Linked DNA regions of Homo sapiens: region 2 is linked to region 1. The links come from fine-mapping of genetic effects on gene expression. Tissue or cell type: whole blood. Region 1 holds a variant in brackets; the other region holds the start of a gene. All regions are shown on one strand. Distances are between the middles of the regions.

Region 1 (8,110 bases):
GTAAAGCCCATGACTGACTTTCCAAACCCTTTCCCAAGCCATAGGCTGACTAGAAACATGGTTTGCCTTCCAGGTCTCCAGAGGACAGTTTTGCTAGATGTGCTGTGATGGCAGGACAATAGAAGTATACTTTTTTACCACCTGACATGCCTGTTCTTGATTCACAGTTGACTATGCTGCAAGCGCCAAGCAGTGACTTAGAAACCCAGTCTCTTTCCACCTTAGGGTTCCACCATCATTAACATACAGCTTTTGGAGCCACTAGGTTCATTTCTGCATGAATCTGATAGGAGAAAAAACAAGAAGCCTCTTGTATCAAGATTTGTTATGAGCCATGGCCCTGAAGTGCCATGTCATTTCCTCTTACATGTGCATTGTCCAGAACTCAGTTACGTGGTCATGCAAAACTGCAAGAGAAGCTGGGAAACACTATGTTTGTGCAACAGAAGAAAAAGAAACAGGCTTGGTAAACAGCTAGTCTGTTTCTGCCTCCAGGGCTCTATAGCTTCTAGGAGTGAGCTCATTGGCTATGTAGACTTCTAGAAAATTTATTCATAAGAAAAATAGTAAAAAAAAAATCCCACCACTGAAAAATTATAAAGGGACGATGCAAGACAAAAATAGTATTTTGATTATCTTTGATTTGTTGGAAGTATAATTTTCAGCGATCAAATGTGCAGCACTGGGTAGTATCAGTTCTGTTTAGTTTGGAAACATACTACTTGAAGTTCTCTGGGCTAATTTTTCTGACCTGAACTGACTGTTCTCAGATTCATTACACAATTGTCATCCTGGGACTTCCCTGCACCATCGTTTAGATAGTCCCTTTATCCCTCTCCTGTCATGTAGCATCTTTTACTTGGATGCAGAGGCTTCCTCTTTTTGTTGGTCCTCTTTCTGATGAAGTACATAATAGTGTTCTGAGAAATATGAACAGAATGCACATTTTTTGAGATCCCACATATTGGAAAATATCATTCTACATTCACAGTTGATTGATAGCTTGGCTGAGCTTGTAATTCTGGGTTGTAATTCATTTCTCCTTACAAGTTTGAAGGGACTTCTCCATTGTTTGAGTACCATCTTTTGAATGTGACCTGTTATTTCTACCTGGCTACTTTTAGGGTTGTCTTTTTATCCTCACGGTTCTGAAATTTCATGTTGTTATGTGTTGATGCAGATTTTCTATCATTCATTTTTGGGCACTCAGATGGCTGTCAACCTAGAAATTCAAAGCTTTCAATACTCACAAGTTTTCCTACATTATTTCTTGAAGATTTTTTCCCCTCTCTCTCTGATTTTTATTCTCTTTCTTGAAAACATAATAGTTAAACATTTTGACCCTGATTTGGTCGACTGATTTTTTTAAAATATTTTCTTTCTTATCTGCTATGTCTTTCTCTTTTTGTTCTAATTTTCTGGAAGAGTCTTCACTTTATCTTTTGTATTTCTATTAAATTTTTTTACTTCTGCTGAAAATATTTTTCTTATGAATTTCTTATTCTTTTATTTTTATAGCTCCCTGTTATTGCTTCAGAAGTAAAATATATTTCCCGCATTCCCTAGGATATTTATCTTATCATTTTTTTCTTCTGTTCCTACACTGTCTTTACTTCCTCTGAGTTCCTTTCATCTTGCTCTTGGCTCTGACTTTCAAATGAGATGCTTTCTTCACATGTCTAGTGGTCCCTGTCTACCTATTCAAATTTATAACCAATCAGTAGCTCTGTCTGGGTGGCAGAACATTTGAATTGGTGGGCCTCATTGTAGGGTGATTAAAACCCAGAAATCTCAGAGTATGTAGATCTTTTCCCTTTAGCCAATCAACTACTCCATAGAGAAATCCCCTAATATACTGCCCATTGGACCTAAGCCACACCTACTCACTTTCTGTATGTTAAGAGGGAGAAAGGCTAAGGTTTATCAATGCACATTATTTAGATGTTTACTTAAGTCCCCTTTTATCAATATCACATCTTAGCTTTCATTCTACTGTTCATTCAAGATTCTTTCAAGACCAGCTTGAATGAATATGCTTTAATAAAAACACAGATTGCACTACAAAACCAAATAGTGTTAAATTTATATTATGCAACAGAATTGTCTGCAAGCTAAGTAGAAAAGGACATCTCCCCTTTATAGATGATTTTTTGGGTTATAAAAATATTATGAAGTAGTAATGATATATTTGCATGCCATCATCTACATTTTTCTTTCATTAACTTTGTCAAATTCTATTTTCAAAGAGCTTCGTTTGTCCTTTGAGGACAAATTCAACTTGTCAGGAAGCCAGCTTCAGGCAATGTCTTTCCCAGTGGCCTGCTGTATTGGTCCACATGAGATATGAAACAGAGACATCTAAAGGACATTTTAGGAACTGGAACATTAATATTTACTCTCCATCCTTTATGACTGATTCCCTTGGAAATGAGGTCTGTAGTTTATTATGAAGCTGGAAAACCTCACTTTGTAAAATTAAATTCAAAGCCACAATCATATGCCTTTTCTAACAAGATTCAAGAGAAGGCTAGAATCACCAACAGTTTTAAATGAAGAGTTATTTTAACAAAAAATATCAGAATTCATCTATTTGCCCTAAAATTATTGGAAGGAAATTGACTTAGAGTAAGCTATTTCTAGTAGTGTCACATTTTGATTTTTATTATATTTGTCCATAGTGTTACGTATAATATAGGTACCTAGTAAATAAAAATAAATAAGCAAGTTATTAAATGAACAATTAATTGATTAAAATCTGAATAAATGTAACTCAGGCATTTTTCTGACTGATTCCTCTTTAAATAGTAATTCCCAATACTCATCTTTTGGCTTGATCAGGCTTAGAGGAGTTATGACAGAATTATATGTGCAAATCTTAAATGTTAACATACACAATAATGGCATTTTTACCAGAAGCATTATTTTCCCAAATGGATAAGAAGTAATAATGAAATTTAAATCTTCTTTTCTAACAAAGGAATTGAGATAATATCTTCTTGTTCGACAGACTCTGAGTTGTTAAAAGCTTTGGTCTAAGCCATCTAATTGCCATAAAAAATTACTTTTCCTGGAAAGCTGGGGTCTAGTTCCAAGGCCACAGGAATGTCAGCTTCTTTAATGCAAAGTTTAAAAATAAATACAAGAAACAATTGCAAACCATATGACAGATTTTTTAAGGCATGTATACTTCAACTACTTCTGTGAATATTAATTTTTCCTTATGCCTTTTAAGTTCATAAGTACATGCTCGTCACTATCATACAAGACAGAGAAACAGAAAGAAAGAAACGGAAGAAGAAATATTCCAGATCTCTGTGTTGCCCACCATTCTGGGTGGTAAAATCTTAATTATGACAACACAAGTCCACGTGATAGAGGAACATATTAGAGGTCAGAGGTGCTTTGAAAACCAGCCAGTTTCACTATTCTTTTAAATTAAAGTAAGTTCAATTAATTCATGAAGCTATAATGTAAATTCAACCATCTAAGATTTCAACTAGCAAAGATGAGGAGAAAATCCCAAAATGACCACTAACATCTTGTTCAGAACTGGTCTGTTTTGAGACGGCTACATTTTCACCATGCTCTCAGGTGGCCTTTCCTCTGTGCACTCACAGAAAGAGAGAGAGCTCTGGTGTCCCTCTCTCTTCTTATAAAGACATCAATCCTACTGGATTAGTGCCCATACCTATGATCTAATTTAATCTTAATTACTCTCTTAAAAGCCCTATTTCCAAATACATACTGAGTCAGGGCTTCAACATATGAATTTTGTGGGGTTGCATTTCAGTCCATAACAAATATATAGGAGGCACGGGCTCAAACCTACAAGTACTTTTCTTCTTCTACTCCAGAAACAACTCCTTGAATTCCTCCTCTAGAATTGCTGCCCAGATGGTTTGGTAGACCATTAGAAATGTTAATATCCTAGTCCCAGAATTTTATATTATTCTCTGGGTTTCTAAATTATCTTACACTTGTATCAAATATAATTACATATTTTAAAGAACTTCTTAAATTCTGACCAAATTTATCCCAAACTTTTAAATGGATAGGACAAATTTTATGATTAAAAATTATTTTGAAAAATTTTACCTATTAATACTAATATTAATTTTTAAAATGTTATCTGTTAATAAAACAGAACTTCTTCTACTTAATATTAACCTAGAACTCCTAGTTCTATATAAACTTGAAATCAATAAAACTGCATTTCCTTTAAAATGTATTGTAACTCAGAATGTACACTATTTTAAGGTGACTCTTCCTAATCATTAATTTTCTTACATAATTTGTTTTGTGTGCTTTTTAAAACTATGATTGCCTATTCTGAATTAGAAACTCTTGAAAGATGTGTGATGGCCTATTTAACTCACTCTGCGTACTAACTAATAGAATTGTAGCTTAATATATGTTGTATCTAACAATTAAAGTTAATACAAGAGATTAAAGTGAGTAAGTCATCTAATTAGACATCCAATCTGTCCCCAATCTTACTAACATTTGTTTTCTTCATGTCCCTCACATCTACTCTTTAGCATTCTTCTTTCACATCTATGATCAAGGCCCCCATTAGTTAGACAAGGTTTTATGCCAGATCCTCTGGCATGAACCCCAAGCCATCCTGCACACATGGATCAAATCTAAATCTATATTGTATAATCTTTCTTCCCCTATGTCATTACACTACATGGCAATCTTCATTGGCTCCTCATGGCCTATAGGATAAATTCATGCTCTTGAGTCTGGCATCTGTCGTTCTCAATTGTTTGATTTCTCAGTTCACCTTCTTAACTTTATCCACATACCCACAGCTAAGAGTCCCCTAACCCCCTTCTTTCTGGCTGAGTCTACATATTTCATTGTCCCCCAAAACAAATTGTAATGGTAACTCAGGTGGTTCTTGAATTAAAAAACATTGTGGATCCAACAGATTGAGAGCAGTGCCTAAAAATTAACAGGATG[T/A]CAGCCCTTCTTCCTTCTCAGGTATCTATAAATATCCCAGATTTTTTAGTTCAAAGAAGGGAAGAAGTATGGAATTGCCTTATCAATCAGTAATTTCAGATGCCACCTGCATCCTGGCTTCCCTCTGCTTCAGATGTTGTGTTTACTATCTCTCTTGATTATCTTTTTAATCACTCCTTTCTGCCATGTTGAACCATTCCAAACCATCCCACCATGCCATTGGTCAAACACATTGCCTACCTTCTGTGTGGGCTCCCCACAGTTGGGACCGACCTGCTACACAGTGACGAATAACCCTGTGGTATCAGATGCCTTCATGACAGCTCCTCGGAGCTCCTCAGTGTCTCCCACCTCTGTGTCTCAGACTGGGAAAAACTCCTAGACCCCCAAGCATTCAATTTTTTACTAAGGCTAGCAAAGAAAAAAAAATCTCAGCAGAATGATTGGGATCCCTAGCTATATATTTTGTTCAGTTTTACAATATTCCCAGGGAACACAGATGCTCCAGGGGTCAGTCTCAGGGTAAGATCAAGTACAAACTGATGATATGCCCTGAATAGCTGAATGACTGTGCCACCAGTTTCCTTCTTTTCTTCCTTTCTTTCCCTCCTTTTCTTCCCCCATTTATTTTTCCTTCCTACCTTCCTTCCTTTCCTTCCTTCCTTCCTTCCTTCCTTCCTTCTTTCTTTCTTTCTGTTTCTTTTACAGGGTCTTGCTCTGCCTGGCCCCCATCAGGGCTCACTCCAACCTTGATATCCTGGCCTCAAGCAACCCTCCCACCTAAGCCCCCCAAGTGCCTAGGACAAGCACATGCAACCATGCCCAGCTAATTCTTTCTTAATTTTTAAAATAGATGAAGTTTTGCTATATTGCCTAGGTTGTTCTCAAACTCCTGGCCTCAAGTGGGATTACAGATGTGAACTGCCATGCCCAGACTCTTTCTTTTATTGCAGTAAAAAATATATATAAAACTTACCATTTCAACCATTTTTAAGTGTACACTTCAGTAATATTAAGTGTATTCCCAATGTTGTGCAGCAGATCTCAAGAACTTTTTTATCTTGCAAAACTAAAACCCTATATCCACTTAACACTAATTTTCTCTCCCACTTCCCAAGCCTTTTGCAATGACCTTTCTACTTTCTGCTTCTGTGATCTTGACTTCTTTATGTACCTCATGTAAGTAGATTCATACAGTATTTGTCCTTTTGTGACTGGTATATTTTGCTTCACACAATGTCTTTGAGATTCATCACTGTTTATAACATATTTTAGAATTTCCTTCCTTTTTAAGGCTGCACAACATTCCATTGTATGTACATATTACATTTTTTAATCCATTCATCTGTTGATAAACATTTGCGTTACTTCCATCTCTTGGCTATGGTGATGTAAGTAAAATGGCTGTTTAAACATCTCTTCAAGTTCTTGCTTTGAATTCTTTTGGATATATATCCAGAGTATAGTTGCTGTATCTATGGTAATTCTATTTTTAATGTTTTAAAGAACCTCTATACTGCTTTCCATAATGTCTTCTCTATTTTACATACCCACCAACAGGGCACAAGGATTCCAACTTCTCTGCATCCTCAGCAACATTTTTTATTTTCTATTTTTTTGATAGTGGCCATCTTAACGGGTGTGAGGTAATATCTTGTTATGGTCCTGGTTTGCATTTCTCTTATGTTAGTGATGTTGAGCATCTTTTCATATGCTTGTTAAATATTTGTATATCTTCTTTAGAGAATTGTCTATTCATATCCTTTGCCTATTTTTAAGTCAGGCTATTTGTTTTGTTGTTGTTGAGTTGTAAAAGTTCCTTATATAGTCTAGATACTAACCCCTTATCACATACATGATTGGCAAATTTTTTATCCTATTTTTTAGTAGTTTTTTCATTCTGATGTTTCCTTCACACACTTCTAATTTAAAATGATATGACAACCTAATATACCCAAAAAATATGTAAAGACATTCCTCGATCCTATGGTACAGTAAGTTAGAACCCCCAGCACAACTTTGTAAATGTTTCTTTTTTTTCTTCCATTTATATTCTTTGGTTATTTAGTTACAAGGAACAGAAACTCACTCAAATTACAGAAAAGTTCGTGAACTAGACCCCAAGAAAAATAGGATAAGATGGTGGGATGGTTTGAGGATCAAGGCAGTTCTAAGGGCTTCAGCAACAGCCATTCACAAATCTTCGTTAAAACTCAGTCATTAATATGACTCTGCACTTCTCTAAGTGGTTCCTTCTTCTTATACCACGATCCACTACTCCATCATCTTCTAATCCAGTGCTTCTCAAATTATATACAGTAAAGGAACATCCTTCCCCCACATCTCAATCCATCATAGGCCAGTACTTTTATAAAACACAAAACCATGCATTTGGATGTCACAGCAATGTTAAACTTTTATGCAGTCTAAAAGCTTAGCTTCTTCTCTTTTTCTTTGCTTATTGCAGACTGGTAACTAACAGTTAACAGACCAAAACTAATGTTCATATACCACACTTTCAACAACATTGCATCTGCTTTCTTGTAGTTTCTGATTGTTCATATCTTTGGGTTGCAAGTGGCCCTTCATAGTCTCTCCACTCTTTCCTACCTTACAACCTATAAATTTTGCTCCACTTCCACCCATTAACTGCCTTCCCTCTCAGTTCGTGTTCGAGAGAAAGGAAATTGCATTGTCTTGTCACCTTTTCTGCTATGTCAATGATTTCCTTTGGTTCACTTGTCCACCCTTATCCAATAACATCTGAATGGATACATAGAATCGCATGGCATGACACATGCATGACTAAGGAGCACCCCTTTGGAGATTACAGACATGGCATAAATAAATGCTCTGACGGACACATAATTTTCAGAGTTCTTAAATTTGTGTAGTATCTTACAAGAGGCTAATAAAGAGCAATAAAAAATTCTGCATTACCAGATAGAGTCCTAGTTAAATAACAAGTGTGGTTTTCTCTCATTGGAAAGAATGGACTGTTCAGTGCCTTCCCTGGGCAAGCTGAGATGCTGAGATGCTGTGGCCAGTAATTGTCAGAGCAATGCTTCACGTGCAATCCCTAGTGCTCACCTTAATTGGATGTGCCATTAATCCTTGTTCGCTAACATGACCTGAATCCAGGAAT
Region 2 (8,110 bases), 290 kb before region 1:
CTATGGTGTATATGTGCCACATTTTCTTAATTCAGTCTAACATTGATGGACATTTGGGTTGGTTCCAAGTCTTTGCTATTGTGAATAGTGCTGCAATAAACATGTGTCTTTACAGCAGCATGATTTATAATCCTTTGGGTATATATGTTTTAGTTTTATGCTTAATAATCACTTATCAAAAATTAATGGTTCCTTTGATTAATTTTATAATGATAGTGTTTTAAATAACATAAGCTAGAATAATTTTCACAACGAAAATCCTTCAAATAAAAAATCAAGTTTTATGTACTTATTTTTGTTGCAGATGAGTCAGGAAAATAGAAAATCTTTAACAGTAAAATGTTCAATTAAGAAAAAATCATTTGATAATTTTAGAGGTCAGTGCTAACAGTGTGCAAGGACTACTTTGTCAGATTTCTATTAGAAGGCACATAAGCAAAATACCCAGGAAGGAGAAGTAGCATTCAGTGATATAAGGGACCAAAGACCCTCTCTGGGCTCCTTTCGTGTGTCACAATGATAAGCAGAGCTTACCCCCACCACCACCGCCATCAACCTTACAACCATCATATTTTCCTGTTCTACAACCATTTTCAGTTTCAATTCCCTCATTTCACAAAATAATTTGTCACTTTCCTGATTTTGTCTGCACCCTGTCAGCACTTGGAGGAACTATTAGCATTTAGAGAAGAAACAACTGTGTATTACATGCAGACTTTTTAAAAATCCATTTTTATACGGTCTACATAGAGTCTTCTGCCCCTGCAGTGGGATGAAACACTATAAAATAAATGCATACAAATACCCTGGCTCTGGATGTGAAATGTGGACAAATAATATTATTGAACTAAACTGAGATTAAAGAGCCTCTTTTTCTCCTCTTTCTGACTCCAGCACTAAACAACTTTTTTTTTTGTTTGTTTAAAAAAGGGCAATATTCTTTGACATAGGCAAATTCATAAATAGCATTAAATCACCCCAAATGGTGACCAGGGTCTATTTCAAGGTAAGGATAGCAGCATTTTAGTTGTCAGTACACTGAACACCTGAGTTTTCTTAGAAGAGAATGCATATGATATCCGAAAAGGAGCATTAACATTAGAATCAAGATAAATCTCAGTGGAGTGTCTGTCTTACCTAGTTGTGTCCTAATGCAAGCAAAACTCTGCATGTCTTTTTTTTTTTTTCTTTGTAAATTCAGGATAAAAATGCAATGGTTATTCAAATTCAATGAGGACATACAGATGAAGTGCCAGTATGGTGGCTGAAACATAGCAGAGGCTTCCTCTTTGAAACTTTCAAATTCACATTAGGTTCCTACTGGAATGGCACTGTTAATAACAATAATTTGTCCTTCAGGCTTTCTGTCAAGATTTCTTAGCTTCTTATGTTTATATATTCAATACAGTCTGGAAGCTGAGTAAAAAGTAAACCTTGTCTGCCCACAGCTGTTAACAAATAGTACAGTACAATATATACATACACACACATATATGCACATACACAGTATATATACACATATAGTCATATATGCACACATATAGACATATAGTTGATAGTATTTAATTAGTGAAATTTACCATCAAATAGGTGTTAGTGCATTCCAGTACTCACTAAAATAACAATTTTTCCTTCAACTCCTCTATGGAATTTTTCCATCCAACCCATTCCTATAGGACAGCAGCAAGTATTTAAGCAATGTTCAGTGTCAGTAGTCTCATGCAGTTACTGTAATCAACGGGTAAGTAAATCAAAGAGCTAATATCGAGCAAAAGAAGTGGCTTCTTGCCAAACCTTCTACCATAATGCCTTCTGAAGAGAGGATGTCCCAAATAGTTAACTATATCATCTCCAGTTGGGATATTATGGGAAACTCTTCTTCTCTGACCTCTCCATGAATCCCAGACTTCTAGTTGTATGGAAGAAGGGATACATAGATAGGCAGAGACAGATATCTAGATCAATCCACATTTGCCTACTATTTGTCAGGCTCTTTCAGCAGAAAGTGATGCAGATTAGACAAATGTTTTCATTCAGGGACCATAAAGGAAATTTCTCCAATATACCAAACACATATTTGACACTCAAATGAATATTATTTGATTATAAAGATAATCTTTAAATATATAATAATGTCAATTGCACAAGTACCATACAAACATTACTTTAAAACCGGCATTCTACCATTACAACGCTGCCTGAAAATAAGTAGGGATTATCACTGTCAAATTGTACGAAATATTTGTATGCAAATAATACCATCCTCCATAAATACCACCAGTCTTAAACTTGTCTCAGTTGGAATTCCAACTCTACCACTTTCTAGCTCTGTGACCTTGATAATTTCCTCAGCTGTAAAATATATTGCCTACCACATAAGTTTATTACGATGTTTTTAAAAAATACATCCTTAGAACAATGTCTGATACATAATAAGAACTCAACAATGTTAGTTATTATTCATACTGTTTCTCATAACTTAAGTTATAGGTCTGAAGACAGAACTCTGTATTATGATCAGCTAACCTTCAGAAAAATAGTTAACACAATGAGCAGAACTCAACATTAAACTCCAGGAGAGATGAGGGGAAAAGGACAGTAGTCTATATTTTCAAAAGATTTAAAACTCTTTTGGGTCAGAGACCCATTTAAAAAGCTGATCAAAGTTACGGATATTTTCCTGAGAAAAATCCACATGTACCCAGCATTTCAGGGCTGCTCTTCTAGCTGTCCTGAAATTCATCAGAGGCAGCAAATCTGAGATGGAGTATCCCGTAGGCTTTAAAACCTTCCACTTCCAAAATCTATTTCGATAAACCTTAAACCACTGTTTTCTCCATCCCCCAAGGAAATTTATAAACATTGTGCCTTGCAATATAGCTGTTGACATTGGCTACATTAATTTCATGGATTAAAACAAAAGAGCATCATTTTAATCACCAGTAGTCTGCAGGAAAATTCCAACCAGAACTATAGCTTCCAATCAGGTTCTGGAGTTGCCACTCCAAATCAGCAAGGAACAGTGAAACCAAAAGTATGGGAACACCCTGCCTATCAGAAGTTCCAGACCAATGGTCAACTGACCCTTCTCTGTCACTGTTGCAAAGCAGATGATACTGCAGGAGAGACTTTTCTGATTGACTAAAATTCTGTGAGAATTTTACACGAATAAGGACCCGAAACTAAGACAATCATAACAAACCTTAAGATCTCTATGATACTTGTTAACTTTAAGCAAAACTAGCTTTTTCTTCACTTTTTAAATCTAAATGGCTTTTGCTGTATTTTCAGTTCTTCTCTTTATATGTCTTTATGTTCCTTCCCATGTATTTCCTTGCTCTGTTGGCCACATTACTTCACACGAAAACAACAGGAGTTTAAAAATTTAACCTGTATTATATCTTTTTTATTCATTTATTTATTTTTTGACAGGCTGGAGTGCAGTGGCAGATCATATAGCTCACTATAAACTGGAACTCCTGGTCTCAAGCTATCCTCTCGCCTCGGCCTTCCAAAAGTGTATTGTATCTTGATGCTTTCAGTAGAATGGTTCACCTTATAACCTCTACATGGCAGGATGCATAATCACCAGTTTATTCTGTAATACCTGAGCAAAAATTCAGCCTAGCTAATATGGCCTCTTTCACCACACTGACAAGATAAGGATGACGTCCACTTAGTTGGCCACCACCAGTATCATAATATTAGATAGTAGTTTAAAAATATATAATGGAAACTAGCTGGTGACCACCACTTTACTTCCAGTTTTGAAATTGCTGACTCATCCTATTTAAGAATCTGTTGTAAGCATCATTTAAGAATTAGTTTGGTTTAGACATACTTTGAAGTCAACATAGTTTTTAATGCATGGAATTACATAAAGTCAAATGAACTATATACCCTTGCTACATGCGGTCTTAATAACACTTGAAAAAATTGGCTGGATTTTCATTTAAAAGCCACCTTGAATAATGATTTTATTTCAGTGAAATTCGCTCGTATTTTTTCCAAGTTCCTTCGACATTCTAGATACACTATCGCTTCTCTAAGAGATAACTGGCTGGCGCAGAGTTGGAACCAATACAGACCCAGGCCTGACTGCCAAGCACTGACCATTCCTGCAAATTTCTCTCCCAGAAGACGTGTGCAAGCAAAGAAGAGGGCGATAATTTGATTTTGCAAAGGTAGGGATAGACGCGCACGCACAGACATCTGCACCGGCCCACAATGAGTTTGGGACGGGAGCAGTTAGGAAGTGGGGAGCTGCGGTACCTTTTCTTGGCCTTCCTGAGCTTGACTGGGTGCAGAACTCAGCCCTCAGGGCTGCGGGACAGCGTCTTCTCAGAAACCCGCAGCTTGGCTGGGGCCGCCAGACGCGCGTCCCTCACCCTCCCAGCGGAGCGCGGGGTGCCCGGCCCGCCTTGCGCTAGCCAGCAGCCTGGAACGCCGTAAGAGCGCAGCGCAGTAGGGAGTCGCACGCCAGGGGCAAAGGGACCTGCGATCTGCGCTCCTCCGGAAGCGGGAGGATGGCTAGGAGAGCCTCAGAAGTGTCATTAAAGGAAAAACCAAAAATTGAAGTTGCGGCTAAGTTTTCCCCATGAGAAGGCGGGGCAGCTCGGCCAGTAGGATAGACCGGAGGGTAACGCTGGAGCTGGGAGGGGCCCTGGGCGTAGGCTTTCGGGGAAAATTCCATCGCCCTTTCAACCACCACCACTCCCCTCCCAAGGCAAAGAAGCCGAGCTCTGTACCTCCATCGAGTCCTGGCTGCAGGGTGGGGGGCGACAGCCACCGCAGCCGGGAGGGTGCGGCCACCCAGTTCCCTCCCGGGGGGCGCCGGACTTCGAAGGCAGTGAGCGAGTCAGCTGGGATTCCCCCGGGCGCCTGCCACCCGGAGTCCCAACCCCTGGCGAAAAGAAAAGTGAAAGAGAAAGAGCCGGGAGCATAGGCGAAGACAAACACCTCCCGCGGAGACTGGGGGTGGGGCGGGTGGCGGCGGCTCCTGGATGACTGACTGCCCCAGGTGTCACTGCTTCCCGGCCTGTTTCCGTCCCTGCCGGGGCCTGGGGCGCAGAACTTGCAGGGCAAGCGCAAGGACATCGAGGAGCCCCAGCCCCGCCCTGCAGGAACACCAGCCACCGGTCTCCTCCTCTACCTGCCGGGACACCTGCAGAGAAGGCACAAGGATAGCCGCATCCCAAGCGACGGGCACCATGTGGGAAGCTTCCGCAGCTGAACCTGGAGACCCGGGCTGGGCTGGCGCGCATCCAAGTCTTCCTGAGGAAAGGGAAAAGGATGTCGGATCTGGATGCTGGGCGGCTACTCTAGACCGGCCTCTTGGTCCCCGCACAGGCTGCAAGAAGGAAACTTTGAAGTCCAACTAGGGGAAATGTTGGAAGAAGACACCCGGGTGGCAGCTTTGTGCAAGACAGTTGGTACAGGGAGTGAACTTAGAGCAATGAGCCTCTCTGCGGATCACTTTTCCAGCCTATTGTGTAGTCCAGTGTAAAATATCACACATGGTCCCATTTGATGGAAGCGTGAGATGTTGTTCTTGTAGTATTTTTACATTGGAGGAAGGAACTGAGTTGAGGCTGAGTGATTTGCATGCCATAAAGGCAGTAGCAAAGATCTCACGCTTAGTTTTGAAAGTACTTTGCAGAATCTTGCACTCTTGTGAATCACTGAAAATCCCTCTTGTACGGTGCTTTCCAAATTTTCAGAGTCATGGTTCAGAGAAAATGATGTCTTCCTGGAGCGCAGTTTAATTTAGTTTAAAATTTAATTATGTTTTTAATTACATAAATATGATAAATATCAAATAGAAAAATAATAGAAATTATTCACTTTCCATGTACATAAAGTTCCGTATAATATAATTTCATATTTTTATGAAAAATTTGAGTTTATTTTCATTAACTCAATTTTTTGATATCAGTTTTATATTTGAAATAATTACTGATGGACTTTTTGATGAGAATTACATCAAACTCTAGATAGTCTCCATTAACAAAATAAGTGAGGTATAAAAATGCAAAAACAGTTTTTACAACCATTCAAAATTTCACCATAGTTGGAAATTATATTTAAGAATATGAAGCCATCATCCATTTCTGTTCATGACGATGTCATGTTGAATTTTCTTGTGATGGTGTCAATGGATTTCAAGACCAGTCAGAATTTTTCATAGCAATACATTGAAGCTCTGATTTGCAGAATGAGCATGCACTGGGAGAGCAAGACTGCAGCTGGTTTGGATCTCACCACAAGAATATAGCAGCCACGGAAGGACTGATATGCATATGTGTGAAGATAGAGAATAGGGATGAACAAGTGTATCATGTGTCCCAACCTCATTTTGGACTGTTGCAGAGCTTCCTGGACTCCTGCCATGTAAACTCCTCTAGCACCTCTTTCAGCTCCTTTAATGGATACTGTGTTCTCTGCAGCCGGTGAAGGAAGCAGGTGTCCACGCTCAGCACCACCTAGCAGAGCTCAATATCAGATATTGCTGCTGCCAGAGGACATATCATCACATCTCAGATCCTGTCTCTCTTGGACTGCCCACAAACTCTATAGAAAGTGCTCTCAGCTGGTGCTCACTAGCCTGTGGGCTTCAGCTTTGTTAGCTGTCTGCAGGACTCAGGGCCATCAGTATCTGACTGCATACTTTTAATATATTGAGACCACCAAGAACGTTCTGAGCTACTAGAGAGTTTTCACAACACTATGAAATTGACGGAAAGTTTACTTGTAGGGTGAACTTAAGGCATAATCTGAGTATATAACAGTAAGAAAATTGGTCTACAACTGTTTATTGGGTTTCAACTATAGTAGGTTCTAGAACAAGATGGACTAAATGATATATAAAGCATTTTGTCAGAGTAGGGAGATAAAAAACATAAATAACAGTAAAGTACAACTAAAAATTATTATAGTCATAAGATATGCTTTGCTCTACTATTTGCCTCCCAAATATGTTGGTCAAATTTGTTTTCATAAATACAGATGTTTTAAAAGTATTTTTAATTAGTTATGAGTGCCTGCAGTTCAATGAAGTTGGGTTTGCAACATAATTTGTTTTTGTTGCATTGCACTCAAAAAGAAAAGTCTAATGTATGCAACTTGTGTTTTCAGTTGCCACAGGCTGTTTGGCAAAATATTGAAAATTACTCATACCAATGAACAAGTAAATTCTGCTGCATAAATTAAAAGCAAAGATGAAGATTGATGAAATAATTTGAAACTGTCTTAAGATAACTAATAAAATTACAGGGTAGAAAGAAGTGGAGATTAACTAAATCTCATAGAAGTGACCATAATAATCTTCCTGAATTCAAATAATTAACAATAAAATTATAGTTTAATAAATTTTTAATATCTTTTTTCAAAAACAATGTCAATTGGGCAATCATCTTTAAAATAAATTACTAATAATTTATTTTCTAGCTTTTGTGATTACATGGAAGAAGTTACAAGTTATTTCATCTGATTTAGTGTTCAAAGTCCATGACTGTGGCCTTATTTATGGTTTTACTAAGATTTAAACCTCCCATCAAGAACAAGTTGATCCCCTGCTCTTTGGAAAACATGGCCTGCCTGGGTTCTCTACATTTCCATTCGGGGTAAAGCATGCTGAAATGCAGCATTACCTCGAAGTTGCTTCTCACATTTTTTTCTGGTGATCCTGACAATAGACAGATACTCTTGGCCTTAAATACTATTTAGGTTTTCAAGAGCTCCTCAAGTTGCTGCTTTTTCAGAACCACAACAGTATTAGTTAGGACTTCTGTAGTTCCTCCAATCTGCTATTTCTCCAGTGCTGTGCTAAACACAAATGTTAACTTATTAAATCCTCACAGCAAAGCTATGAGATATAAACTATTATTATCTCCATTTTACAAATGGGAAAACCAAGGCCCAAAGAATTATACAGCTTGCCTAAGATCACATGGAAATTGACTGACCCAGCAAGGATTTGAACTCAGACAGTCTGGCTTGAATACACATTCCTACTCTCTGGTGCCTTTAAATTGGCAGCCATTCTCCACTGTTTCTAAAACTGAATTCATAAGGAAAGAAGCGTGGACCCCCAGACAGTATGTCTTAGTCC

The links. PIP is the estimated chance that this variant, and not a neighbour inherited with it, causes the effect.
Region 2: it holds the start of IL15, and the variant in region 1 is fine-mapped to the expression of IL15 in whole blood (INTERVAL, PIP 0.98).

The regions. Positions count from the first base shown.
Region 1 is chr4:141,340,594-141,348,703 of GRCh38, reverse strand. No RefSeq gene overlaps it. Among named protein-coding and RNA genes, the nearest start is that of LINC02432, 12 kb to the right of the region's middle. The variant T/A (reference allele first, on the strand shown) is at 4,966.
Region 2 is chr4:141,633,387-141,641,496 of GRCh38, reverse strand. It overlaps IL15 (interleukin 15), which reads right to left and starts at 4,914. Exons shown (of 8, transcript NM_000585.5): 1 at 4,749-4,914. RefSeq lists an enhancer at 4,912-5,001.